Homo sapiens: one gene and its partners. The protein of the gene in region 4 purifies or fractionates together with the protein of the main gene of each other region. This does not show direct contact. Each region holds a gene or a part of one and is shown on either strand. Other genes may lie near its edges.

Region 1 (4,157 bases), on a different chromosome or scaffold from region 4:
AGCCAGACTTGGTTCCTGTAATTCTCCATAATCACATCTGATAGATTCCTTTGAGCTTGTTCTGTGAGGCCTCATTCCTGCTGGGAGAGGACTTTAACTATTTTCCTGAATGTTCCCAATTCCTGGACATTCCTTTAAAACTTCCAACAGCCATTCCTTCCACCTCTAGTGTTCTCTCCTTCAACAGGCTCCTGACAAACCTGGTGAAATTCAACTCTCCACATCATGGCTGCCTTCATCCTGGCAGTTCAGTGTGGTTGGCCAAGCAGCACCATTTGGCACAGCAAATCACCCCTGCCTTCTTGAAGCATTTTCCTCACTTGGCCTCAAGATCACTTTACGCTCTTGTTTTCCTCCTCCGTCTCAGCTGCTCCCCCTCAGTCTTGCTTACTGGTTCTTCTTCCTCTTTCTGGAATCACACATCACACTTGTTTGACAATTATACAGAAAGTCATACCAGTGACATAGTAGCACAGTCATATGGTCAGACAGTTCTCACAGAGACAGACACAGAGTCACAAATCCACAAGTGACACAGACCGAAGTGCTCCTACTCTAGGGTTTAAAATACCATAGTGGTGTCCCAGAGCGGCTCTGAATTAATTTCCTGGGATAGGGCAGAAGGCGATGTATGGTTTGCCACAGTCACAGCTTCTGGGACATGTTTATTGAGGGAGCAGCAATGAATTTGAATCATTGTTTTATTTTTCTTCATATTCCAGGTTGATGTTGATGCAAATTCACTGAATTCTAACGATGTTTTTGTCCTGAAACTGCCACAAAATAGTGGCTACATCTGGGTAGGAAAAGGTGCTAGCCAGGAGGAGGAGAAAGGAGCAGAGTATGTAGCAAGTGTCCTAAAGTGCAAAACCTTAAGGATCCAAGAAGGCGAGGAGCCAGGTGTGTGCTCTGGGGCCAAGGGCACTAACTAGAATTTATACTGATACGATTGCTAATCATCTTTTTTTCACCAAAAAGTCACTTTCTAATGGCTTATAAGGGTTAACAATCTCTCCATTAGTTGCAGAGGTGGGTGGGTGATGGTACCTGATTTCTTTAAGTAATTTCTCAACACTGAAATCAAGGTGAGATAATATTTGTTCATATAAAGCGACAGCAAGCATATGTCCCTGAAAATGCACTGGATAACTGAGTGTGTTTTCCACAGAGGAGTTCTGGAATTCCCTTGGAGGGAAAAAAGACTACCAGACCTCACCACTACTGGAAACCCAGGCTGAAGACCATCCACCTCGGCTTTACGGCTGCTCTAACAAAACTGGAAGATTTGTTGTAAGTGTCCTTAAAAATAGTGCGATAGGGCTGGTTGCGGTGGCTCATGCCTGTAATCCCAGCACTTTGGGAGGCCGAGGCAGGCAGATCACCTGAGGTCAGGAGTTCGAGACCAGCCTGACCAACATGTAGAAACCGTCTCTACTAAAAATATAAAAATTAGCTGGATGTGGTGGTGCACACTTGTAATTCAAGCTACTCGGGAGGCTTGAGGCAGGAGAATCACTTGAACCCAGGAGGCGGAGGTTGCAGTGAGCCAAGGTCGCGCCACTCCACTCCACTCCAGCCTGGGCAACAAGAGCAAAACTCCGTTAAAAAAAAAAAAAAAAAAGGGCCGGGCGCGGTGGCTCATGCCTGTAATCCCAGCACTTTGGGAAGCTGAGACGGGTGTATCACGAGATCAAGGAGTTCCAGACCAGCCTGGCCAATATGGTGAAACCCCCTCTCTACTAAAAATACAAAAATTAGTCAGGCATGGTGGTGGGTGCCTGTAGTCCCAGCTACTTGGGAGGCTGAGACAGGAGAATCTCTTGAACCCAGGAGGCGGAGGTTGCAGTGAGCCAAGATCGTGCCACTGGCACCACTGTGTTCCAGCCTGGGCAACAGAGTGAGACTCCATCTCAAAAAAAACACAAAAAACAAAAAACAGTGAGATAGAACCTAACAACGCCGGGAAGGGCATTCCCATGTGGCTCTGACACCTTCAGACATGCTACTGTTCTGAATCTCAGTTTCAGCCTGCCTACAAACCACGGTGACAACCTTTGCTCTACACAGGGTATTTTTTTTAAACTTTTATTTTAAGTTCAGGGGTACATGTGCAGGTTCGTTACATAGGTAAACTTGTGTTGTGGGAGTTTGTTGTACAGATTATTTCATCACCCAGGTATTAAGCCTAGTATCCATTAGTTATTTTTCCTGATCGTCTCCCTCATCCCACCTTCCACCTTTCGATAGGCCCCCAGTGTGTGTTGTTCCTCTCTATGTGTCCGTGTGTTCTCATCATTTAGGTCCCACTTATAAGTGAGAACCTGCAGTATTTGGTTTTCTGTTCCTTACACAGGGTATTTTAAGGATTAATGATATAATTAATGTGAAAGCATTAATGTTGTGATGTCCTATATAGATTAAGCTGTTCTTAAAAGTACTAGCTACTTTACACCTGTGTGAGCATGCAGTTGCTGTATGAATATATATGTGGCTAGATGTGTTAATTTAATAATTTGGCATTTTCTGTGGGCAGCAATCATTATTTCTGATCAAACTATGTAAATTTTACATGTCAATTTCCCAGCGGAGTAAAAATTTTCACCATATTGACTGAATTAAAAATATTATGGAAATATTATGATCATTGGGCAAAAATCACAGAAAGCTATATATGCAGTTACAAATTAACTGATATCAACAGGAATGTTTTATTTCATAGTCATTTACAAGCTTTGACTTCCAGTCCAGTCAGAAGTAAAATTAGAAGTATGTGTATGCATGTCTTAGTTCAAGCTCCTATCACAAAAATACCATTGACTGTGTGGTTTAAACCACAAACATTTATTTTTCATGGTTCTGAAGGCTGAGAAGTCCAAGATTAAGGCAACAGCAGATCTGATGTCTGGTGAGGGACCACTGTCTAGCCTTCTTGTGTCCTCACATGGCCAAGAGAGCAAGCTCTAGTCGTGTTCTTTCCTTATAAAGACAGACACTAAGCAGGGGCACTGTACCCTCATGGCCTCATCTGAACCTAATTACCTCCCAAAGGCCCCACCTCCTACTACCATGCCATTGGAGGCTAGGGGTTTAGCATAGGAATTCTGGAGGCAAACAAACATCCAATACAAAAGAATACAGGAGTGATTTTACACTAGGCTCTGAAATATCATCCTGAACCACAGCCTCTCACCTAAATTTCAAAAAAAAAAGTTATACTTTCTCTGTTTGACGTGCTAAGTTTTTGGTAAATTTTTCATTTAAAGAATGAATTCTTCTTTTATATAAAATTTGATCCACAGATTTTGGTCAACATGCCCTAGTGAATAAATGCAAACTTCATTTTTCAACACAGGAAAGAAAATTTCCCACGTATTTTGTCAGATATTTTGATTACTAGAAATAAAATTATTTGAGATGAAGTGGTTCAAGTCTCCCTTGAAGGTTATAAATGATTTGACCTACAAGTTAAAGATTTAAACAGTGCATTGAGATAAATATTTGGTTGCTGTATACCACAATTTGCTCACCTACTTTACAGGAAATCCCTGAACTTGCTATATTTTATAGATTTGTCATCAGAAAAATCTGCTGTTTTATTGTTTTGACTTGATATTGCATCCAAGCAACTTATTTTTCAGCATATGCTCCTATAATTTCTTATTAGAATTATTTATTAACATTGCTATAAATTAGTTGTTTGTTTCCAAGAAAAATGTATTTTACAAAAATAAGTACCTAGGCTTTGTTCTCAGTGTGTTTAAAGAAAAAAGATCTGTTAGTCTTTGGCTTTTTGTTATGCGTATATATTAGCCTTTAAGAGAAATATACATTTCCTCTGCACCAACTCATTTTCTTGTTTGATATTTGGAACCCCTTCTGCTCCCTTTATAGTTTAAGGCAAAGGATTGTTGCTAACAAATCTTTGATCTTATAATTACTATCAGAAAGTAGGCTTTACACGTGTAGATTCCTACAAGGCAGCTACAAGGCAGCAGAGCTTATTAACTAAAAGCACAGCTTTTAGAACCAATCTGCCCATGTGCTGTCACTTATCTGGTGGTAGTACTTGCTGGCTGTGTGACTTTAGGCTGGTTACTGAGCCTGTCTGGGCTGTAGTTGTCTCAACTCTAAAATGGTGGTAATCTTAGTACCTACTT
Region 2 (4,157 bases), on a different chromosome or scaffold from region 4:
TGGGATAGTTGGATAAATGTAAACAATTAAATATAATGTAGCCTACAACTATAATCATGACTATAGCTGAATGATAGAAAAATATAAAGAATGAGCCTATAATTAATTTTTTTTAAAGACGTGGGCATTTGGAACTATAGGGTAAGTGGAAAGGAAAGAGGCATTTTCTTTTTACTTTTCATAGCAAAGAATACTTTTTATAAATGAGCTAAATGAGGTTAACAATCTCACTAAAAATTATAGCAGTTTTTATTCTTATTTTAAGAAAAAAATCTTTTAAAGCAGTAAAAAACAATCCCAACTAGTTTCTAATACAGTACCATGTGCATGTCTCTGCTACTAAATAAGTAACGAGCCCTTCAGATACAGGAAAATAATAGGAATTGAGATTTAAGTATCTGGCTAATTACAAGATACCTATCAAACAAGTTAGGACATCAAAAGACATTTAAAATCCATGTCTTCTGTGTGTAAACAAATCTTTCTTGTCATAGGGTTTTATGCTACCTACCTTCAAACATAGTTGAAGTATCATAGATCTTTACCTTTAGTCTAGCTTGGTATTGCATGCTTGTAATTAAAAGCCTTTGACTGTATGTTTAGTTATTAAATGGCCTTTACTGTTATTTTTATGTGCCTCTTGAAATCTTTCATTTCTTAAGTTCCAGCATCCAATTTTTGGATGAAAGAGGCATTTTCTTTGCCTCTTAAGTTCCAGCATCCAATTTTTTTAAATGTGCCATGATTTCTTTTTCAGAAAATTAAAACCAATACATTATTAGTGGTTTTAATACAGAAGCTCTGCTTTTTGTCAGTAAAAATGGGTTCTGTCACATACGTGTTTTAAGCATCCAGGTCCAGGCATAATTCAGTATCCATTTAGCCAATCTGAATAACAATTTATTAGGATGAAAGGGAAGAAATCTTAAAGTGAATTCTGAAAGCCCTTTTGTTGCAGTTCGGGAGTAGTGGAAACTTAATTCAGTTTGGTGGTGAGAAGAATGACTGTCTGCCAACCCCAATTGCTCAGTTGTCTATCTGTAATTCTCTGTTTTTTACATGGGCAATAAAAGTTGAACTGACTCTTGTCACATAGAGTCAGTCAACCATTAGAAAAAAGGTATGGGGTAGAACTAGGTGGTGAAAGCTAGGACTTGTTTGTCAGTGTTGTAGAATTTTGTTTTTTTAATTGTTAGTAATGCATAGATTCAGAATACAAAGGCTTTGTTTAAAAACTAAAAACTTCCACGTTATCTCTCCTCTCCTTCCTCTCACCCCTGCCCCGCCCCCCGCCCTTTTTTTTTTGAGACAGAGTCTCACTCTGTTGCCCAGCCTGGAGTGGAATGGCACCATCTTGGCTCACAGCAACCTCCAACTCCCGGGTTCAAGAGATTCTCCTGCCTCAGCTGGGATTAGAGTAGCTAGGATTAGAAGCACACACCACCACGCCTAGCTAATTTCTGTATGTTTGGTGGAGACGGGGTTTCACCATGTTGGTCAGGCTGGTCTCAAACTCTTGACCTTGTGATCTCCCTGCCTCAGCCTCCCAAAGTGCTGGGATTACAGGCATGACTCACCGCGCCCAGCCTCCTCCTTTTTAAAAAATAAAACACTCGTCTTTGGCTTAAAACCTGTTATTATTTAAAGAAAATGGTATGTCATGACATTTCTAGCAGCTGAAACCACCTCTCCCCTCTTTTGTAAGTGAAATATTAGGTGGTAATGCAACATACATGATTAACTTCTACCTTGTCCTCTGGCCTCTGAGATATTCCTAAAGAATACCCTATGTTTCATGGACTGCTGTTAGAAACAACTAAGCTAGTACTATCTTTTATAGCTGCCTGTGTTCTTATAGTCTTAACTTCTAAAGAGAGACATTATTTACTCTGGGCTGTTTTCCAATACCAACAACCAACTCTCTTGATTTCTGTGGACACCAACTGGGTGTCCTACAAATCAATTCAATTCTGACACTACCAGGATTAGCATCACATCCCACAAGTTATGGGCTCGGTCTTACAAACCGCCCCCACTTAAGACACTAATTGAGTCCAGAACCTCTCATATTTCTGATGATGGAGTAGCCTACAGAACTTAGAAAAACAGTTGACTTTCTTGTGCTGATGAAGGATCCACCTCATGAGCAGCCACATGGAAGCGATGCATAGGGCAAAGTATAGGGGAAGGGGCACAGAGCTCTTGTGCCCTCTCTAGGAACACCACCCTCTCTAGGAACACCACCCTCTCAGCATCTCGATGTGTTTGCCAACCTGGAAGTTCAAGAGTTTTTATAGAGCTGAATCTTGAGTCCCTTCTCCCCTTCCCAGAGGTTGGTGGTTAGGGTAAAAGTTTCAACACTCTAATCAGTTGATCTTTCTGGTAACCAGCTGTATCCTGAGGCTGTCTAGTGTTCCCACACCAAGTTACCTCATTAACATAAACTCTGTTGACCCCGAAGTCTCTAGTGATCCTTCCACCTTAGCCTCCCAAGTAGTTGGGACTGTAGGTGCACGTCACCACTTCTGGCTAATTTTTAAATTTTTTGTAGAGACAGGGTCCCACTATGTTGCCCAGGCTAGCCTTGAACTGCTGGCCTCAAGTGATCTTCCAGCCTCAAGTGATCTTCCCACCTTGACCCCCCAGAGTGTTGGGATTATAGGTGTGAACTGCTGTGCCTGGCCCAAAGGACTCATTATAAATAACAAAAGACGGTCCTGTCGCTCAGGAAATTTTCCAAGAGTTTTAAGGGCTCTGAGCCAGCAACTGGCTGCAAAGCCCAAATGTATTTTTTCGTTATACCATATATTTAATATTATATTTGGTGATCTTCACCTAATCATCTTCATTTACCTGGTCTTCTGTCAGTGGGAGCAGCCATTGAGACCATGTATGAAAACCCATTCCCTCATTCATACAGTTACATAGTATAGGAAACTATCACCTAAATATAAATACAGTGGCTTTGATCTGTAACCCAAAGAAAAAAATAACTTTACATCTCGATGACCCAGTGTGTGTGTATATATTTATAGGTACATATGCACATAAATAACTAAAACAAGTTACAGAAAGTAATATTCTTGCTAGGGTATAGTACAGAATATCTAATATTCTCTATTTCATTTTTAAAAATTATTGTTCAGGACCCATAAACTGATTTCATCACTAGTGGGAGACACCACCGTTTTAAAAATATTTACCAATTGAAATTAGGTTTCTCTAAGGCTAATGTTTCTTTTACCTCATGTCAGCTTTTGTTTCATACATAATTGCTGTCAAATCATCTAGCAGTGCTTCCAGTTGATGTGCAATTTTCTTGTCTATTGGAGATACTTGTCACAAGATGTTCACTACTATTTGTCCATTGCCATGTGTGAAACCTGCATCTGGTGCAACATGCTGATGGGAAGAGTGCCTGAAGTAACTCCCATTTTCCCAACAGTTTGGTAGAGAGCGTATGGACTTGGTGCTGCATCCATTCTAGAGTACTCTTGCTCCTTGTTGGCACTGTTACTTGTGATTACAAGGCCCTGAATTCATAAACTTAGAGATAAAAAACTTCCTCGAGCTTTGACCTTTTCAGTTACTTAATATTTTTCAAAATTCATATCATGCACTTGTACTCCAATTTTAATCTCTTTAGGGAACTTACATGATATAATTAAAGACTTGAAATACTCTCCTGTGTAACAGTAGATCAGATAAGGTACACAGTATGTTTTATCTTTTATAATCACCGCTTTAATAGCAGATGTGCTATTAAATAGGAAAAGTGCCCTTCACGTGCCATTTTATAATTGCATATTATAAAATGATCACACCCTTAACTCATCCTCTGCAATTTCTCAGTAGTATGGCACTTGACAAAGCACTTGCTCTCATTCTTCATAATAACCCCATGAAGGCTGCGGGGCATTTTTGTGTTGTTGCTGCTGTAAGAAAACAGGTTTGATTATCTAACTGATGGAATTTATATTTATTTAACCTATTTTTAGGAATGACCCCAAGTTGCATATATTCGGAAGCCTGCATTTAATGTTTTAACTGTTTTTCTATTAAGTTTACTGATTTGTTATAGGTTTGCAACTCTCAGAATATTTTGTTTATATTAGCAGGGCATTGAGATTGTTTATTCTAAATGCATTTTTTTGTTT
Region 3 (4,157 bases), on a different chromosome or scaffold from region 4:
CTTTTTTACATGCATGTTAGCCATTTATATTTTTAAAAAATACTTTAAACTTAAAATGGTGGCACGAGTTGATTAAATGCAACTCAATATGGTGGGCTTATTAAAATACCGCACCCCCTCCCAACACACACATTTTTTTTTTCCTGGAGTACTTAAATAGGTTTCAGCACAACACTTCCTATTAATATGAAAAGTTTTGCTTCCAAAATCTGTTTCTATAACAGCAGGATGTTTACATTTCAAACATTAGCCATAGTTGACTGAACTGAATTTCTTAGTTAACTTTATGATGCCAGAAGGCAAGACTATTTCTGATGTCAATTGCTTTTGTTATGTTTCATTAGGACACAGTAGAAAATAATTTCAAATTCCGGAAGTGCATATTATACAAAGTGGAAAGGCTTGTTAGTTTGCTGTATTTTTCATTAGGAGCAACCTCTTCCTCTCATGGCCAATACTAGTGAGTTTCTCAGCCTCTCTAATACAGATTTTCTGCTATTTCCCCACTTGAACTTCCTATTCACTGTCCCTCAATAATCTTCTCTAATAATTGCAATAAACTTTAAGATTCTAGTTTATCTCTGATTTGCTCAAAAGAGAGTAGCTAAGATCCCTTGTTCTATCATATCATTCATTCTTTTTCATTAGTTTCCCCTCCATTTCCTATAGAAGAGGCAGGTCTATTGATTTTAAGAATTTGATATCATAAAGTATCTTTCTTTTTATTATTTTATCTAGTTCTCTTTTTAAAATTGTTCTTTTTTTGAAGCTTTCTCTCAACATCCATCTTTCCCTTCTTCATTTTTTGTTTGTTTTTTTTTTTTTTTTTTTTTTTTTTTGCTTGTTTTTACAGTGTGGCCTAACATACTTCAAATCCAAATAATTCCCAGGATCTCTGTCATTCTAAAATTTGTTTCTTTTAGTACATTTTCTTCCTGAAAAAAAATCTATTCTGAGAATTTTGAAGATGCTGCTCACGGGGTTTCTACAGGAAATTAAGCATAGTATCCTTTATATGTTAGTAATTTCTTAGTATGATTTTAACAATAACTTTCTCAGTACACCCCTAAAAAAGGGAATTCATACTGTTATTCCTTAATTAATCCTTGGCTTTACCAAGCCAAGTTAAGGCTTGGTAAAACAGATCATTTTTAATTACTACAATCCTATACACATAACACCCTGCTTGTCACTTTTGTACTTTTCTAGTATTCAAAGCCATTCCCACTCTCCTCTTAGATGACAGCCACACGTGGATGTCAAGGCATTATCTCCAGCTAGCAACACCATTAACGTGTGCTACCATCACATGTTACCAAACTGTCTATAAACTGAGTGACAAGCAGATGGAGACGACACTAAATTTAAGATGTTGTGTTGCCATATAGCTTTGTAAATTTTTCTGGGAGATCCACAAACAATGATTAAAAGAAACATAATTATTTTTAAATAAGCATAGGGGGTGCAGCTACTTTAAACATCAATTACTTTCACATAAATTTATTTGAAAATAAAAAATTATTATCTCTAAAGCAATATTCTTTCCAAAGGAGAAGTAGTTCTTTACCTGTGCAGCACTAAGAAGGTGTGTCCGATAAATTGCAATTACTTCTTGGTGCTGTCTGTCAGCATCCTAGAAATGTGGAAAGATGGACAGATGTGACTATCAGCGTTCACATTTCCAAACTTTGGACAATGCTCAGGCTTCATGCTACAAAACTATTATTATTATTAAGGCGATCCTGCTACTTCTAACAACAAACTACCTTGGACCTACCAGATGCAGAATTTCAAAACGTAACAATATAAACTTCTGTAAAGAATGTGTGGCTAATGACAGTAATGCTACTTTCCCTAAGCAACATCAAATTATTGCTTTAGTTCATATCTAGTGCCATGAACTTCTGAAGACACTTATCACATGTCTGGATTATTGCAAACGCTTCCCATCCTGTCTTACTATCTCCACACTATATTCCTTACCATGCCTCTGAGACTAAGGTACCTATTTCCTCACATCACTTTTGGCTCAAAAACCTTGAGTGACACTTCTTTACATACATGAGAGAATCCAAATTCATCAGTTTGGTTCTCAATGACTTCCACAGTTTGGCTTCAAACATTAACTTTCAAATACAGCAGTCCCCTCTTATTGGCAGTTTTGCGATGAGCAGTTTCACTTTCTCTATTTCTGTTGCCCATGGTATAATACAATATTTTGAGATATAGAGAGAGACCACATTCACATAACTTTTATTACAACATATTGTTATAATTGTTCTATTTTATTATGTTGTTATTAATCTCTTACTGTGCCCAATTTATAAATTACTCTTTATCACAGGTATGTATATCTGGGGGGAAAACATAGCTTATATAGGGTTCATTCAGCAGGTCCTATCCATGGTTTCAGGCATCCACTGGGGATCTTGGAACATACCCTCAGTGGATAAGAGAGGGACTACTCTACAGGCAGGGCTTTTACTGCCCTCTGGCCATGCCACTTGTATTCCATCTCCACGCTTCTTTTACACTATTTTCTTTAGATGGAAGAGCCTCTACTTTCCTTTCACCTACCAAAATAGCATCTACGTTACAAGTTCAAGCCAGGTACTCCCTTCTTTAAAAACTAGCTTCTACCACACCACTAATCTTTCCTTCCTGGAAACCCCTATCACTTAGAATCTGCATTCTCAGTTCTACATTTGACATCTCTCATCTTGTGATTTTTACTTTTTATGAATCTGTATTTTGCCTCTCTAACTACCCAGAACTCCTTGGGGACAGGAATGGCATACTTTCTTTATCCCACTTAGCACAGGGTCATGAACATAATAAACAATAAACAAATATTTCCAATTATTAAAGGGACACTATACTCTTTGGATAAGATCCAAATCCACAATTTGCCATCCTTAATCTGTAGGCCTACAGTGTTAAAAAATAAACACTAAAAAAGAAACAAAACAAAAAACCTTTCTTCTATTAAAAAATAACTCAAACAATTCTATGAAATAGGGAAACATCAGCAACAATTTACATGTGACTGGGCCGTTTTACTTAGCATTTCAATGTGTATTAGTGCATAATTAAAAGCATAGTCCCAGATACTCAGGAAGCTGAGGCAGTAGGATCACTTGAGCCCAGGAGATCAGCCTATAGCAAGACCCCATTGGAGACAAGCCTAAGCCACATAGAAGACCCCATCTTTTGACAAAATTCAACAACTTTTCATGCTAAAAACTCTCAATAAATTAGGTATTGATGGGACGTATCTCAAAATAATAAGAGCTATCTATGACAAACCCACAGCCAATATCATACTGAATGGGCAAAAACTGGAAGCATTCCCTTTGAAAACTGGCACAAGACAGGGATGCCCTCTCTCGCCACTCCTATTCAACATAGTATTGGAAGTTCTGGCCAGGGCAATCAGGCAGGAGAAGGAAATAAAAGGTATTCAATTAGGAAAAGAGGAAGTCAAATTGTCCCTGTTTGCAGATGACATCATTGTATATCTAGAAAACCCCATCATCTCAGCCCAAAATCTTCTTAAGCTGATAAGCAACTTGAGCAAAGTCTCAGGGTACAAAATCAATGTGCAAAAATCACAAGCATTCTTATACACCAATAACAGACAAACAGAGAGCCAAATCATGAGTGAACTCCCATTCACGATTGCTTCAAAGAGAATAAAATACCTAGGAATCCAACTTACAAGAGATGTGAAGGACCTCTTCATGGCAAACTACAAACCACTGCTCAATGAAATAAAAGAGGATACAAACAAATGGGAGAACATTCCATGCTCATGGGTAGGAAGAATCAATGTCATGAAAATGGCTATACTGCCCAAGGTAATTTATAGATTCAATGCCATCCCCATCAAGCTACCAATGACTTTCTTCACAGAATTGGAAAAAACTACTTTAAAGTTCATATGGAACCAAAAAAGAGCCTGCATCGCCAAGTCAATCCTAAGTCAAAAGAACAAAGCTGGAGGCATCATGCTACCTAACTTCAAACTATACTACAAGGCTACAGTAACCAAAACAGCATGCTACTGGTACCAAAACAGAGATACAGACCAATGGAACAGAACAGAGCCCTCAGAAATAATGCCACATATCTACAACTATCTGATCTTTGACAAACCT
Region 4 (4,157 bases):
CCAGACCATCACGAAGGCCTTTTTACCTGATACAAGTAGAGAACAAATAAGGGGAGACACTGGCTGGGGGAACAGGGCAACAGAGAGAGATGCACAGGTATATTCAGTTACCTTTCCCTGGTCCCCACCCTCAAAATACTGCTTGGACCCAAAACTAAAGAGGACTAAGCTGATGTATTGAGCTGATGGGAGGAAATGGCATTAGTGCTCTAGAGGAAGAGAGAAGGTGACATTATGAAGGAGTAATTATATATAAGAATTTTTTTAAAAGCTAGTCTGATTGCCAGCTAAAATGGTCTCCTAGGGGTTATTCTGGTTTCTGTTTTGTGTCAAGGTTTTTTTGGTCGGATATGCCGTAGTGCCTGCTCCATCTCTGGAGTTTGTTTCCTATTAGGAAGGGACTTTGTTTGCCTGAGGGAGCTGGCACATGCTGGACGTTGGTGCCATGACCCATCTGAGTCACATTCCTGACCTCTAGGGCCTAATAGTTGGCCCCATGCCTGCTCCTCTTGGGCCACACACCCTGGGCTCTGTTGTTGAAAGCCTCCTTTATGTGCTCTAGGCTCCCAGAACCCTGGCCGAAGCTCACCTCCCCCTGGCTATGTTCCTGAGCGGCAGCAGCACATTGCCCGGCAGGGGTCCTACACCAGCATCAACAGTGAGGGGGAGTTCATCCCAGAGACCAGCGAGCAGTGCGTGAGTATAGGGGGGCTGGGATATGCCTGTGGCCTGTATCAGCAGACCAAGCTCATAACAAGGGGTTCTTAGTAGTCACAGTGCAGAACTGAGGGACATGAACCCCATTTGAAAGCTCTTTTATAAACCAGGCCTGCCCAAATATGGATTGTCCCTTTTTAAGGGCCAAATAACAATTTCTGCCAAAGATGGGATCTAAAGGATCTAAACTACATAGTTTCCTTGTTGTTGGGTGAGGATTTAACAGATTTTTCTTCATCGTGGTCCTCTCATTGTTCCTACAGGCAGGCACCACCACGCCCAGCTCATTTCAGTAGTGTTTTAACATACGACTGGTTCTAAAGTGACAGGTTATGTTTTTCATTGGATATATTTTAGTTTTGCTGTTTCTTGATGAAAGGTAAGGAGTAAACCATATCAAAATTACACTGTAGGATTGGTTAGGCTGATCATTTATGATGGTAGACAGTTGTATTAGTTATCTATTGCTCCATAACAAATTACCACAAACCTAGAGGCTTAAAACAATATACATTTATCATTTTCCAGTTTCCCTGGGTGAGGAGTCCAGGCATGACTCAAATGGGTCCTCTGCTGAGGGTCACACAAGACTGCGATCAAGGTGTCAGCCAGGCTGCCTGCCTTTCTTGAGTTTGAGGCTCTTTTCTAAGCTCAGATGGTTGTTGCCAGAATTCAGTTTTTTTGTGGCTGTAGGACTGTGGTTCCTCTTTTCTTCTGAATGTCACCCAAGGGCTTCTCTGAGTTCCCTTCCTAGAGGCCACCTGCAGTTCCTTGCCATGGGGCCCTCTCACAACATGGCAGCTTCTTCAAAGCCAGCAGGAGAATCTTTTGCTCCAATCTGCAAAGATGGAGTCATAAAACATCACATAATCATAGGAATGAATATTCTATCCTCTTTGCCATAGTCTATTGGCTAGACTCACGTCACAGGTTCTACTTGCACTAAAGGGAAAGGCAGTTCATTGGGACTAATTGGAAGAGGGAGCAATCACCTTAGGGTGTGTCTACCACAGTGGCTCAGCCATTTTAGTGGCTAGCTTTTAAATTGGTGGCTTACTTGATGCAAATGGCAATTTGGCTTAGTGAACTCACCAAGCATGAGATCTCTAGCTTCATTCTGGTCTTTTCAATAAACTTGCTTTGATGTAAAAGAAAAGGCTGCTCTTACACTTTCTGGGCTTGGCCTGAGAAGGGGAAATTTCTTAAGGGGAAAATGTCCAACAGAAGGGCCTGTGCTGTCACATGGGAGATCTTATAAAAAGCTGATTCTTGTAACTTTTCTTTCATTATTCAAACTATGTAGGCTATGAGAAGCCCTTTGTACTCTTCTTCCTTCTATACTCCTGCCTTCCAGATAAATTCATGTTTGGAGTAGTGACCTGGAGTGCCATTAGCTGCAGATTTCCTTTTTGGGCATTTTACTGACCATCCTTTCTGGTTTCTCTAACCAGGGCACTTCTGGACATCAGCTGTTCTAGGGGTGACTTGGGTGTAAAATCCCAGAGATTGCAGATGAGCTTGATTGCCCTCAGTCTATGTCCCTCGCCATGGTCCTATACTCTGCCCCCTTCACTTTTTTACTTTGCCTGCATGGCCCTGGAAGGCCTGGGAGGATTTGACTCCCAGTGAGGACAGACTTTTAGAAAGAGGCCAAGGAAGGCAGTGGTTGGGGATTGCCAAGGTCCTCCCCCAGCGCCTGCCTCTTTAGCTGAAGAGAATTGCTCCTGGTAACAGGCCATTTGAGATCAATCTGCTTAACAGGAACGAACACTGCATAGTATGTAATAAAAGAATATTCCAGTGTGACTTTACTGAAAAGTGAAAATATGATAAGTTTTGTTTTTTCTTTAATCAGGTTTAAGCAATAATTGCATCTATTTACTAATTTTTAGAATGAGCAAAGCATGATTCATGTTAATTTTTTGGCCTAATTTTTCCAACAAAAATTATGTCAGTCCGGTCGCAGTGGCTCATAGCTGTAATCCCAGCACTTTGGGAGGCCAAGGCAGGAGGATTGCTTGAGGTCAGGAGTTCAAGACCAGCCTGGGCAACATAGCAAAACCCTGTCTCTACAAAAAAAAAAAATTTAATTAGCTGGGCATAGTGGCACACCTGCCTGTAGTCCCAGCTACTCGGGAGGCTGAGGTGGGAGGATCACTTGAGCCCAGGCTGCAGTGAATTGCACTCCAGCTTAGGTGACAGAATGAGACCCTGTCTCGAACAACAGCACCAACAACAAAATGCTAGCACAATGTAACGTCCTTCACTCCCTGCTTGACTTCTAACCATAAAGAACGTCATTTTTTACAAGAGCGTTCACAGGACTCAGCAGTTTTCCCCAAGGCCTCTTGTGAATCTTTGGTATTCTTCCTCCACCACACCTGCCATGTTATTTATTTGTCCATTTTGTCTTTTTCTGTTAACTAGTCTAAATTTGCCAAATATGCATCTGATGGATTTAAAGCAATTCTCTCCGATGTTGGTTTCATCCACTTTGGCTATCCTATATCCTTAGCAACATTTGCAGTTTTACTTTGCAATTAATTTGCCTTGATTGGCAGATTTTAAAAAATCATGTGTGACAACATGACTTAAAGCATTTGAAATTATGGGTGGGGATGGACCCTGGTATTAAATGGGAAAAAATATTTGAGTTGGAAACTAATTTTATGGAGGTCGTTAGTGAATTTTCATAATTCTGATACTTTGTTTCCCTATGTAATTTTTTAAAATTAATTAAAAAAATATTTAAACAGAAACAAGATCTCACTATGTTGCCCAGGCTGGTCTTGAACTCCTGAGTGCAAGTGATCCTTCCCTCTCGGCTCCCAAAGTGCTAGGATTACAGGCATGAGCCACCAAGTCTGGCCCCTATGTAATGTTTAATGTTGGAGCTCGGATAATGAATATTCTGAAATTGAAGACCCCACCCCAACTTTTGTGCAGAGAAAATGAAAGGGAGGACCTTCAGGACATTGATTGGAGAAAAAGGGATTCCAAAGGCCTTTTGTTGCTGCATTTGACCAGGGGCCAGAGAAATATTTTATTATATTTAGATATCTATTACCTCTGCATTGGACCAGGAACTGGGACATTTTTGTTCTGGTATCAGCTGTGCACTAACTAGTTTTATGACTTTAGACAAGTCTCCTAACCTTTCTAGGCCTGTAGTGCTCATCTGTGAAATGAGGCAATCCTTGTCTTTGTAAATTATAAATTATGGAGTGTAAACAGAAGCATTAAGGTCCCACCCGAACTCACTGGAAGGCTCAGCAGGGTAGTACCATCTCCAGCGCCAGGCTCCAGTGTTAATGAGCCAAGAACATGCCAACAAGAAAAGCAGAGCCTCTGCTTTGCTCTCCTGCCAGAGCTCCTTGGGATGCCAGCCAAGCATTTTTCTCCCTCCTGGAAACTTGCCTTTCAAACTAAGGGGGAGGATG
Region 5 (4,157 bases), on a different chromosome or scaffold from region 4:
CAGCTGTTACAGCGTATCTGAACTGAAACCAGGGTATTGAGATTGCTCTCCCTTAAGAGATATTAGAGGTATAACCTTGAACATGAAATCACATGCTTTCATTGCTTTAACTCAGACCCTGGGGTGCAGGACAGGGTGGTGGTAGTGAAAGAGGGGGAAGGACTGTGTCCTTAGATCTTGGAGCCTGAAAAAGCAAATTCTTAGCAGCTTATCTTTCCAATATAGTTGGAACTTACCTCCTACCTTTTTCTCTCTAGTCTGATTCTAGTTATTGGTTGTCTTTAAATTGCTTAGAATTGTTTACAGGCCAAAATATTTACTTTGAACCCTAAAGGTAAGCTCTTCCTCCTTTCCTTTTTGGGACTCTGTATCCCATTACCCCTCTTTCAAAAAGATAGTGCCACATATCTTTTTGTACTGTATGATTCTTGGGAGAGAATGTAACCCAGGTCCCAAGCGATTCATTTTCTCATTTATTTATTCATTTAACTAATTTTTTCCCAGTGTTTGATTATGAAAAGGTTTAAACTTTCAGAAAAGTCAAAAGAATTTTGCAATCTAGAATCTACCTAGATTCTATTATTGATTAGAAGCCAGGGTATTGATTTCAATTGATTAATCAACTGGCATTGATTAGTTCCTACTGTTTGCCTGGAGGTTTGCTCAGCAAAGCTGTAAAAACATAAAAGGCAGGGTAGGGTTAGGGAACAAGGAGAGTTTTGATTTGGCGGAGCATAGGCTAAGAGTTTGTGAAGGAATCATGTAACTTTGGTTTGAAAAGTTATGTTGAAGTTGTATCATGGAGGACATTAAATTTCATCGTAGAAAGTTTATACTTTTTCCTGGTTGCAGGTGGGAGCCATTGAAGGCATGGGAGGAATGGAGTGCCTTGTGTTTTAGAAAGCTCACTGAAGCATCAGTGTTAGGCTAAATTGGAGGGAAAAGGACCGGAAGTCTGAGAGATGTGTTAGGAAGCTTTGTAAATGTCTCGGGGCAAGTAAGGGTTGAACTGTGGATAGAATGGAGAAAAAAGGAAGTAGAATAGCACTTGGTGACAGATTTGACTTGAGGACTTCTGGTTTTAGAACTCAGGCATCTGCAATTATAAGGGAGCATCATTAAGAATCTGGAAGTCGCTGGGCATGGTGGCTCATGCTTGTAATCCCAGCACTTTGGGAGGCTGAGGCGGGCAGATCACCTGAGGTCAGGAGTTTGAGACCAGCCTGGCCAACATGGTGAAACCCTGTGTCTACTAAAAATACAAAAATTAACCAGGCGTGGTGGTGCATGCCTGTAATCCCAACTACTCAGGAGGCTGAGGCGGGAGAATCGCTGCAACCCGGCAGCAGAGGCTCCAGTGAACCGAGATTGCACCACTACACTCCAGCCTGGGCAACAGAGCAAGACTGTGTCTCAAAAAAAAAAAAAAAAGTATCTGGAAGTCATAGAAGGAGGAAGTTTGAGGAGAATGATGACGTCCTGTTATAGAGTCAGTGGGTTTGAGGGGCTGATTGGTTATCCTTTTGGAGGTGACAGCTGACAGTGGTGATACTGTCCTGAAATGCCCAATAGCAATGTCAGGACTGAACAAACATTTGGACTAGTGATTAATACTCAAGGGGTGGTTGAATGGGAATGTACGGAAAGAGAAAAAAGGATAAGATCTTGAAGAAAATCTGAATATATGGAGTCCTTGGAGCAAAAAATAAATACAGGTGTTCAATGATCTGTTAGTATTTTAATGCCTGTTTATCTACAGTGTTACTATAGCTGCAGTTCTCATTAATAATTGACCACAGTTCCTAACTAAAAGACCATATCTGCACTAGTAAAGTGAAGTAAGTCTTTCCTTTTCCCATTCTGGGAAGTTCAGGGGGTAAGGTGAGGCAGAGGAAAGAAGAAGAGAAAGTTAAATAAATTTTTTTATCTAGGACTTTTAGAGCATACAACGCTTTTTCCAGGTAACCCACTTGCAGATCAGAAGCCAGGTAATTTAATGAACTTGTCTATCTTTTCACAAGGCAACAGCTACTTTTTTTTTTTTTGAGATGGTGTCTCACTCTGTTGCCTAGGCTGGAGTGCGGTGGCACAATCTCAGCTCACTGCAACCTCTGCCTCCTGGGTTCAAGTGATTCTCCTGCCTCAGCCTCCTGAGTAGCTGGGACTACAGGCGTGTACCCCCACGCCTGGCTAATTTTTATATGTTTAGTAGAGACAGGGTTTTACCACGTTGGCCAGGATGGTCTCCATCTCCTGACCTCATGATCCGCCTGCCTTAGCTTCCCAAAGTGCTGGGATTACAGGCGTGAGCCACAACGCCCGGCCAAGGTACAGAGTTTTTAAGTGGCAGAAGCCACATTTGAAGCTGTGAAGGCATACTTTGTTTTTTTATTTTTTATTTTTATTTTTTGAAATGGAGTTTCACCCTGTCGCCCAGGCTGGAGTGCAGTGGGGCGATCTTGGCTCACTGCAACCTCCGCCTCCTGGGTAAAAGCGATTCTCTTGCCTCACCTTCCCAAGTAGCTGGGACTACAGGCATGTGCTACCATGCCCAGCTAAGTTTTGTATTTTTAGTAGAGACGGGGTTTCACTATGTTGGCCAGGCTGGTCTCCAACTCCTGACCTCATGATCCGCCCACCTCAGCCTCCCAAATTGTTGGGATTACAGGCATCAGCCACCGTGCCCGGTCTGAGGGCATACTTTAAATCTTTCATGCTATTCCCACCGGACTGCATTGCCTTCCTATATGCTACTGACTGTATGCTAGGTACTGTGTTAGGCGTTTGCACATGTAGGCTCCTTACTGTGGCCCCTCTGTTTTGAGAAGGTGATCAGCAGGGAAGCTCAAAGCACATTGCACAATTGGTTGTTGCACAATTGGCAGGATGTCTGCCCTCTGATTGTGCCTTGTTTTCACCCAACTTCTTGAACTCTACAGGAAGGGCCAGCCTCTCTCAGAAATGCCAGCCCCTAAAGCTGGTACAAAGGTCATGCAACCTTCCTACTTCCCTGAGTTCAACAATCACTTCATTCATTCTCCTTAAGATCATACCTAAAATCCTGGCTTATTTAAGGGTGAAGTGGAGAAAAGCTCTATTTTCACTTATGCATTTGTTTTACCCCATCAATCTTCTGCCTTCCCTCATTGTCCCACAGTTGTGCCTGTCTAAGGTCACTTTTTGCTTTTTTCTTATTTTCCTTCCCTGGGGAGTCTTTGGAGAGAGGGTGCGATAGAATGTGTAGCCTGGAGCAAGATTACCCCCAGTTGACTATGGAAGCCCTGAGAATTATGCTGCTTCCTCAATGCTTTTTTCCCAAAGTTAGAAGTAGCAAGTTGTATAGTGAGTAATAGGATTTGCATTGTGAATGGGGTCTTCCTCCAGTGAGGACTTTACTAAGTGCAGTGTTTATTTGTAGTGGGGCACAGAACTGCATTCCTCATGCTTTATGACAGTATTTAGGGTTTACTGGTTTTCATGCATGTCTCTCTTTGCTAGAATGAGGGCTCCTTGAAGGTGGATACTGTCCCCTTTTCATCTTTAACTACTCCACAAGTTTTAGCAAAGTGTCTCACCCTTTACTGTATGGTTAGAAAATCTCTGAAGAGTTGAGTTCTGTTAAAGGAGAGAAAACTATTTGTATAGAAGAGTGTGGGTAGAAGCCTGTTTGTTTGTTTGTTTGATGTGAGACAGGGTCTTGCCACATTGCGTAGGCTGGTCTTGAACTCCTAGGCTCAAATAATCCTCCTGCCTCGGCCTCCTAAAGTGCCGGGATTACAAGTGTGAGCCACTGTGTCCAGCCGAGGCCTGCATGTTTGAATGGATCAAGAAATGTGATTGTTTAGTGCTGAGGGAGGGTAGGTAGGTTGCAGGGAAAGGCCTGGCTAGGGAAAAGCTCATATGCTCCTAAGTCAAGCAACAAGAAATGTAGAACGTGAAATAAAGATGAAGCCATTCTGAGTCATGTGCAGACCGTGGGAAATATCTCCCTGTATTTGACAAAAGGGGAAATGGCAGCCATAGCTAATTCTGAAGATGAAAAGTGTTCCTGCCTGGGTTACTTGATGAAGAATATTATTAGCAATCAGCAAGTCAAGTGGAAATAATTTGTTTTGTTTTGTTTTCTCCCCTTCTAACTATTGGCATGTTGGTAGAAT
Region 6 (4,157 bases), on a different chromosome or scaffold from region 4:
TTGTCTGGAAAGACACGGGATCCCAGAGCCTAGGGTGCCCTCCTAGCTCTGAAGGCTCGCAGAAAACTTGGCTAGCTTGAAAGGAGGCATCGATCTCTTCAGTGTGGTTGCTAGCAGGAAGCCTCGGCAAGCTAATAAATACTATTTACAACTGGGGAGGAGAAGCTGGGGAGGCAGAACTATGGATGTGTGGGGAACCAGGTTGTGGGAGGTCCTAAAAGCGACAAGATGGGGCAGGTTTGCCTGGAGTAGAAAAGCCTGATCCCCTCAGGCATTGCACTTGCGGCCTGAGAATATGAACGAGAGCCCTCGCCTGCCAGTGCTGCTGCAGGAGACGAGACGATCCAGCGAGGGCTCCCAGGGGGCAGAGTGGGCGGAGGGCTGCTGTCGGGGGTGTTCACACCAGAGACCCCAGTGCGAGCAACGGAGGACACGGGTCAGTGCTTTGCCAAATACCAACAGGCATTATGGCATTTTTGTGGCCAGAGTCTGGGGTCTTGACTGAACAAGAGCCATCTCGTCTCCAAAGCGGGGGGTTACACCTCACAGGTGCACATTAGGCAATATCTTTTTGGCACTATTGGTGGAAACAAGCCTGCTTGTCCCACCTCCAACCCCTAAAATAATTTCCTATGGCAGTAAGAGAAAGGAAGGGAGGGATGCAGGCTCCCTTCTGCACAGGAGGGGCATGGACCAGGGGGAGATGCTCTCTCACTGCAGGGAAGTCCCAGGCTGGTCTCCAATCTGAAGCCACTAATGCTTGCCCATGTCTCCATGAAGATCCAGTGGCAAAGAGGAAAAGCTGATGACAAAGGTGGTTTGGGGATGTAAAAGTAGAGTTAAGGGAAAGGGAGGGGGTGCAGGCAGCCTCTTTAGAAAGTGGTGTTCACTCTTCTGTCGAGTTCTACAACTTTTAGTGTTTCATTCCCCTCCAGTTTGGCGCTGACCCTGTGAAGGCATTAAAAGGAAAACGAAGTATTAGTCACCAGCTGTTAGCTACAATTCTCATGCTTTGTAGCGTGATGCAATCATTCAGGGGTTGCAACTTGGTGAGACGGCCTGGGCATGTTTCTTGTCCTTTTCTCTCCTAGTAGCAATTCTCTGTTTCCAAAGTCCCCTGCTACCAGCCTCTCCACTAGTCCACATTCCTACCTTTATCTACACCCAAGGCATCCCAACCCTACTAAGGATAATCATGGTGGCTTGATATTGATCTGCTATGAGATGCATTAAATTATTCTATTTACTTAGGATGTTTAGCCCTATGCTAAACTCAGGGAAGGAGAAAATAAAATGATAAGAGCTGATCCTTGGCCTAGAAGAGCTAATAATCCAGATAAAGATTTTTAACAATGAGCTAATTTGAAATAATAATAAATCCATAACAGAAAATAAATACATTATTAAATTGTGTAACAACCTGGAAAATTTCTAGGCATTCAGAGGAGGGCTAGGAGGCTTTGTTATCTAGGAGACATCACAGAACAAATGGGATTTGAAGTGGGCCTTGAACAGCTTAGCTGAGAGAAGAGAAACTGTGTCCAGAGCCAAGTAAGAAGGCACTGGGTCTTCTAGAGATCCCAGCGGTGGCTACATTGGCAAGTCTCTCTATGACGGGAATAATAATGATGCCTTACCACATGGGATACTTAAAAGGATTTGTATGATACTGTTTCAGTAGCCCTCATCCGAAAATCTAAAATCTAAAATGCTCCAAAATCTAGAAATTTCCGAGCATTGACATGACGCTCAAAGGAAATGCTCACTGAAGCATTTTGCATTTTTGGATTAGGGATGCTTAACTGTTAAGTATAATGCAAATATTCCAAAATCTGAAATCTATAACACTTCTGGTCCCAGGCATTTCAGATAAGGGATAGTCAACCTGCCTCACATCTGTAAAGTGCTTAAAATAGTAAGTGCTAGTAAATGTTAAATATGTATGTATAATGTACACACATAAAAGTACTTCATTATAAACCTTCCCCTGCAGAATTAGGGGATGAAAGCTGAAGAATCTGAAACAAAATCTTTCCCATTTACATCGGAACGGCCTCATTTCTGGGAGGCATAGGAGCAGAGTTCAGCTAAATCACCAACCATGTCACACGTAACCAGGAGCATGCATGCAGGCCCAGGGACCTCCCCTATTACAACAACAATACCTTGCAGTCGCATAAGCCTTTATGTTTACAAAGGGATTTTTCCCAGAAACTGAGAAACAACTCATGTAGAATTGGAGCCAAATAGAGGTTGTTCTCAATATGGAAATGTGTGCACAGTGCCTCTTAAATGGTACCCCTCAACATACATCTATAAGTATAAAACTATAATATGTATAGTTTTAATTAACACATGTGTATTTACATATAAATCATAAACATATATTGACATATAGCACAATATATATCTACTCCCTAGTTGAAGCCATGAAACATGTCTTAAAGTTGGATTTGCACAGCAAACACACTGTGGTTACCTGGGCTGTGCATTCACTCGTGTGGCTTGGAAGGGAGGATGGAGACAGTGGGGGAAGGGATTCAAGCACTTCTTTGTGCCACCACGCCAGCTCCCCGCTGATGCAGCAGACATAGGGGAGCTCACGCTGGTTTTTTTCCTCATCTCTGCTCAGGGCAACTGTTGGCCAGCAACAGACTCTCTGCAGTCCCAGGTCCTGGAAATAGGTCCTGAGAGAGCTGAGGGACTGAACCAGGCCTATGGAGAGTCTCAACCTCACATCTCAGGTTGCTGACTCATAACCCACCATCAGTGCACTAGAGGAGTTGGCTCTGTGTCTCTATGACTCACAGGTGCTGCTGCAGCTCCAAAAGCACTGACTTCTCCAGGCTGGTCTCATTCGAGATAATGAAATGGGGAAGATCCACATCCGGCCTGGACTCCAGCCCTGACACCCTGAGCAGGGAGGAACCTCTATCCCAGCCCCCCAGCTCCCCAGCCGAGCCCGGGCTGGATGACTCCTCTGGGGGAGAATGTTCCTCGTAGATCAGCAGGTTTCTGGATCTCACTGAGGACAGAGCAGAATAATAAGGTGTTAGCAAAAGACCACAGGGGTCCAACACATTCCCTCACTCCAGGTGCTCAGGGCTGGTGGCAGATGACAATGTGTGTGTTCTCGTTGCCCAGAACCATGGGTGCCAACAGAATTTGGCTTTCTATAAAGACTTTAGAGCTTCGGAGTTTGTGCATTGAAAAATTATACCAATTATACAGTGCTGGAAGAACAATAGAAAAGCAAATAAACACAAGGCAAACTACCACCCCCACTGCTTTGAAAATATAAAACTCCCCCCTTACCACCCATAACCATCTAGGGAAAATGATTCATGGAGAATGGGAGTGGAATACTTGGAGATGTCCAGACCCAGCTAAAAGAAGCAGCATTCCCAGTGAGTAGGTCTGGCAGGGGGATGAGGTACAGGGCATCTCATTTAGAAAGGGAAGAGGAGACACAAAGCCAAAGCCATAAATCAAAGGATAGAGACAATCTCCTTTGTTTTGTAGGACAGTCACACAGCTAGATGGCTCTGTAGCAATTTTCCATGACATAGAAACTATGCTTCCAATTAAATTTAGAGAGATAGTTCCTTGGGGGGAAAAATTCTCAACAGGCCACTGAAATTATTTAATTGGAATGCTAGCACTTCTGTCATACCTGGCAGAGACACACCTGCCTGGTGAAGACCACAGACGTTTCAAGATGGCAAAATTTTCCCTATCCCAAATCCAGTACAGTAGTCCTCCCTTATCCATGGGGAATACATTTCAAGACCCCCAGTGGACGGCTGAAACCGAAGATAGAACTGAACCCTATATATATGGTATAAGGTATATATGTATGGGAAAAACCATACAGGGTTTATATATGGGCATATAGCATGTAGGGTTCATATGCCTTTTCCTATACATATGTACTTATGATAAAGTTTGATTTAGAAATTAGGCCCAGTAAGAAATTAACAATAATAATAAAATAGAACAATTCTAACCATATCTTCTAATAAAAGTTACATGAATGTGGCCTCTCTCTCTCAAAATTTCTTATGGTGGTGTACTCAGCTATTTTCAGATAACTGCAGGTATTTTTATTGGCTGCAGGTAGTGTTTCTTACTATAGTGTATTCAGCTATTTTAAGGTA
Region 7 (4,157 bases), on a different chromosome or scaffold from region 4:
GCGGACACCAGGTGGTTGAGGTCCCCGTAGGTGGGCGTTGTCAGCTTCAGAGTGCGGAAGCAGATGTCATAGAGCGCCTCGTTGTCGATGCAGTAGGTCTCGTCTGTATTCTCCACCAGCTGGTGCACCGACAGTGTGGCATTGTAGGGCTCCACCACCGTGTCCGACACCTTGGGCGAGGGCATGACGCTGAAGGTGTTCATGATGCGGTCCGGGAACTCCTCACGGATCTTGCTGATGAGCAGCGTGCCCATGCCTGAGCCCGTGCCGCCGCCCAGCGAGTGCGTGAGCTGGAAGCCCTGCAGGCAGTCGCAGTGCTCGCACTCCTTCCGCACCACGTCCAGCACTGCGTCCACCAGCTCCGCGCCCTCCGTGTAGTGCCCTTTCGCCCAGTTGTTCCCTGCACCCGTCTGGCCTGCAACAAAGAGAGTCCCGTGCCGTTTAAACAGGAAAGGGCTGCGCCATCACCATGCTTGGTCACCGACAAGGAGGGTGTGAAGTGATTCCATGATGTGCTGTTAGCCAAAGGGAGGGGCCGGGGAAACAGGCACCCACCAACGGTGCAGCTGAGCAGATGCACTGGTACGTTTTTAGGCAAGTCAAAGTAGCTACTGGTCAATTTTAAAGATGTATATACATTTTGACCTGGTTGTTCCATGTTAAAGAGGTAATTCTTGCACATGGTAGAATTCAAAGGGAACAAAAGGTATACATTAAAAAAATAAGTTACTGGCCGGGCGCCGTGGCTCATGCCTGTAATCCCAGCACTTTGGGAGGCCGAGGCGGGTGGATCACTTGAAGTCAGGAGTTAGAGACCAGCCTGGGCAACATGAGGAAACCCCATCTCTACTGAAAATACAAAAATCAGCCGGGCGTGGTGGTGGGGAGCCTGTAGTCCCAGCTACTTGGGAGGCTGAGGCAGGAGAATTGCTTGAACCTGGGACCTGGGAGGTGGAGGTTCTAGTGTGCTGAGATGGTGCCACTGCACTCCAGCTTGGGCGTCAGAATGGGACTACAGCTCAAAAAAAAAAAAAAAGTTCTCTCCTTTGGGCTTTCTGAATCTTATACTGTACTATGTATAAGTATTTTCTTTTCTTTCTTTCTTTTTTTTGGAGACGCAGTCTCACTCTGTCGCCCAGGCTGGAGTGCAGTGGCGCAATCTCGGCTCATTGCAAGCTCCGCCTCCTGGGTTCACGCCATTCTCCTGCCTCAGCCTCCCGTGTAGCCGGGACTACAGGCGCCTGCCACCACTCCTGGCTAATATTTTTGTATTTTTAGTAGAGACGGGGTTTCACCGTGTTAGCCAGGATAGTCTCGAACTCCTGACCTTGTGATCCGCCCGCCTCGGCCTCCCAAAGTGCTGGGATTACAGGCGTGAGCCACGGCGCCCGGCCCAAGTATTTTATTTTTAAAACTTGACACTTTTTCATGTTAATGGAGCCCCTCATTCATCATCCAGAATTACTGTTGCAAAATGTTTGCAGAACCAATTATTTATTCTGCCCCTATAATTAAATACTAAGCACAGGAAGTAATTCCTGCCCTCAAATTGTTTCCAGGCCAGTTGAGAAAAGGAGCTTAATATGTCTGAAAGACTTCTGTATTTTATGCAGAGTTCAAGTAACAAGAAAGAGACCTAGTCTGTTTTCTGCATAATGGTGCTTTTTTTTTTTGAGACGGAGTCTTGCTCTGCCACCCAGGCTGGAGGTGCAGTGGTGCGATCTCGGCTCACTGCAAGCTCCGCCTCCCGGGTTCACACCATTCTCCTGCCTCAGCCTCCCAAGTAGCTGTGACTACAGGCACCCACCACCACGCCTGGCTAATTTTTTGTATTTTTTAGTAGAGATGGGGTTTCACCATGTTAGCCAGGATGGTCTCAATCTCCTGACTTCGTGATCCACCCACTTCGGCCTCCCAAAGTGCTGGGATTACAGGTGTGAGCCACCGGGCCAGCCCCATAATGGTGCATTTTTGCCAGACAGGCTTATGTATATCTTACTTTACCTAAAAAAAATTGAATCTGAAAGATTGGCTCTTAAATTTAAAATCCTATTTTTCATTTTATCTCATTTTAAAATGGATTATTTCACTAGCAGAAGCATTTTTTTCCCAGCTGTAAAAATTACACAGGTTTGTATGTCCATATGAACAGATGCACGTAGGAGTGGGAGGAACTAATTTTTGTTTTTGGTTTTCTGGGCACTACGAGTTTCATATAATGCAATGGCTTTCATACATTGCTGTGAACATCTGTATTTATTTATTTAGAGACAAGGTCTCGCTCTGTCACCCAGGGTGGCGTACACTGGCACCACCCTAGCTGACTGCAGCTTTGAACTCCTGGGCTTAAGTGATTCTCCCACTTCAACCTCTTGAGTAGCAGGGACTACAGGCACATGCCACTACACTTGGCTAATGAACATTTGAAAAAACTAGATACTAGATACCTCTCATTTATTTTAAAGTTAACATCTATTATTTTTCATAAGTCAAATAGTTGCATATGATATAATTTTAATTTCTGGAAACAATATAATCACTTTAAAAAACTCTTCTTCTGTTAAATGTATTGATAGAATATATTAAAAATCAGAAATAATTCCAATCAGTTGAAGTTGATTCTTTTTAATTTCCTGTGATTACAAAGTATTAAATGTTATCTATCTACCTATCTATATCTATTTTTTTCCTATTAATTCATTTATCCAAGGGTGAATATTAAATACTGCCAGAAAGGGCCAAGGCTTGGGATCAATTCTATTCCTCTTAATTTTTACATATATGAGAAATCTTGTCCACAGATATATGTAAATGGGAATGAATTATGTTCTACAATGTCATTCAGTTCTTTGATTGTCTTCAGAGTTACATCCCAAAAATCAAATAGTGAGCTATTATCAAAAAGTATTTTCAAGCCTGGGCAACATGGCAAAACCCCATCTCTACTAAAAATACAAAAATTAGCTGGGTCTGGTAGTGCATGCCTGTAGTCCCAGCTACTCGGGAGGCTGAGGTGGGAGGATCACTTAAGCGTAGAAGATGGAGGTTGCAGTGAGCCAAGATTGTGCTACAGCACTCCAGCCTGGGTGACAGAGCAAGACCCTGTCTCAAAAAAAAAAAAAAAAGTATTTTCAATCATCTGTCACTTAACTCAATTTTGTTTATTTATTTATTTATTTATTTTGAGATGGAGTCTCACTCTGTTGCCCAGGCTAAAGTGCAGTGGCACGGTATTGTCTCACTGCAACCTCCACCTCCTGGGTTCAAGCAATTCTGCTTCAGCCCCCCGAGAAGCTGGGATTACAGGTGCTGCCACCACACCCGGCTAATTTTTGTATTTTTTAGTAGAGAGAGGGTTTCACCACGTTGGCCAGGCTGGTCTTGAACTCCTGACCTCAAGTGATCCGCCCACCTCGGCCTCCCAAAGTGCTGGGATTACAGGCATGAGCCACCGCACCTGGCCAACAACTCAATGTTGAAGAAAGCAGAATTGGAAACGACCTAACTTGCAGGTCATGACATTTTACATCAGTCATTCTTTTCTTGTTTCTGAATGTAAACCAAAAAGGCTTAACCAAGACTTACTAAATACACTCTCACTCTTTCACTTTAAGGCAATTTATTCCAGTATACTTAGAGTTGGGAAAATTGAAATACTAATTTCTAATATGACTTTGTCAATTTAATTTTTAATAAAATGTTTTAAATATTTATTTTCATGAAATTTTGGGCTGCAGATTTAACTAATTCAAGTCATAAAAACTTGCATTGCATTATACAGACCTCTCCCCACTTACTCCAACTTGACTTTTGTCTACACACGGCTGGTGGCAACAATTCACAGCCACTGCCAAAGACCAGCCTCTCTGGTTTCACGTGGGCAGGTCCATCCCTGATGCTGCACTCACCCTGGGGGCACTGAACTATGAAGCAGTGAAACCACCAAGGCTGCCTCTGAGAGCTGCCAAGTGCTACATCGGGTAAGCAAGCTGCCTTTCACTTGTCAATCTTTAATTAGTGGACAAGGGGCTCCCATGCAATTTGGGACACGGGCCTGCTCACAATGAGGTCTACTGATGGCACCCCTGGCTTCTGCAGTACATAACAAGTGCAGCCTTACACAGTGGCTCTACTCTTGGGGGGGATGAAGCATTTAT

The links.
Region 1: the proteins of MAP3K3 (region 4) and SCIN purify together in Homo sapiens (tandem affinity purification; one large-scale study listed by IntAct). This does not show direct contact.
Region 2: the proteins of MAP3K3 (region 4) and XPOT purify together in Homo sapiens (tandem affinity purification; one large-scale study listed by IntAct). This does not show direct contact.
Region 3: the proteins of MAP3K3 (region 4) and UACA purify together in Homo sapiens (tandem affinity purification; one large-scale study listed by IntAct). This does not show direct contact.
Region 5: the proteins of MAP3K3 (region 4) and CPVL purify together in Homo sapiens (tandem affinity purification; one large-scale study listed by IntAct). This does not show direct contact.
Region 6: the proteins of MAP3K3 (region 4) and CREB3L2 purify together in Homo sapiens (co-immunoprecipitation; one large-scale study listed by IntAct). This does not show direct contact.
Region 7: the proteins of MAP3K3 (region 4) and TUBB6 purify together in Homo sapiens (tandem affinity purification; one large-scale study listed by IntAct). This does not show direct contact.

Annotation. Positions count from the first base shown.
Region 1 is NC_000007.14:12,643,416-12,647,572, forward strand, and holds part of SCIN (scinderin), read left to right. Parts: intron 1-722; coding exon 723-900; intron 901-1,168; coding exon 1,169-1,290; intron 1,291-4,157. UniProt on the Homo sapiens protein: Ca(2+)-dependent actin filament-severing protein that has a regulatory function in exocytosis by affecting the organization of the microfilament network underneath the plasma membrane.
Region 2 is NC_000012.12:64,410,737-64,414,893, forward strand, and holds part of XPOT (exportin-T), read left to right. Parts: intron 1-4,157. UniProt on the Homo sapiens protein: Mediates the nuclear export of aminoacylated tRNAs. In the nucleus binds to tRNA and to the GTPase Ran in its active GTP-bound form. Docking of this trimeric complex to the nuclear pore complex (NPC) is mediated through binding to nucleoporins.
Region 3 is NC_000015.10:70,658,584-70,662,740, forward strand, and holds part of UACA (uveal autoantigen with coiled-coil domains and ankyrin repeats), read right to left. Parts: intron 1,634-4,157; coding exon 1,568-1,633; intron 1-1,567. UniProt on the Homo sapiens protein: Regulates APAF1 expression and plays an important role in the regulation of stress-induced apoptosis. Promotes apoptosis by regulating three pathways, apoptosome up-regulation, LGALS3/galectin-3 down-regulation and NF-kappa-B inactivation.
Region 4 is NC_000017.11:63,681,204-63,685,360, forward strand, and holds part of MAP3K3 (mitogen-activated protein kinase kinase kinase 3), read left to right. Parts: intron 1-562; coding exon 563-696; intron 697-1,132; exon of another isoform or gene 1,133-1,555; intron 1,556-4,157. UniProt on the Homo sapiens protein: Component of a protein kinase signal transduction cascade. Mediates activation of the NF-kappa-B, AP1 and DDIT3 transcriptional regulators.
Region 5 is NC_000007.14:29,139,803-29,143,959, reverse strand, and holds part of CPVL (probable serine carboxypeptidase CPVL isoform b precursor), read left to right. Parts: intron 1-4,157. UniProt on the Homo sapiens protein: May be involved in the digestion of phagocytosed particles in the lysosome, participation in an inflammatory protease cascade, and trimming of peptides for antigen presentation.
Region 6 is NC_000007.14:137,879,604-137,883,760, forward strand, and holds part of CREB3L2 (cyclic AMP-responsive element-binding protein 3-like protein 2), read right to left. Parts: intron 3,026-4,157; coding exon 2,809-3,025; intron 949-2,808; coding exon 873-948; 3' UTR 1-872. UniProt on the Homo sapiens protein: Transcription factor involved in unfolded protein response (UPR).
Region 7 is NC_000018.10:12,321,325-12,325,481, reverse strand, and holds part of TUBB6 (tubulin beta-6 chain), read right to left. Parts: intron 674-4,157; exon of another isoform or gene 416-673; coding exon 1-415. UniProt on the Homo sapiens protein: Tubulin is the major constituent of microtubules, a cylinder consisting of laterally associated linear protofilaments composed of alpha- and beta-tubulin heterodimers.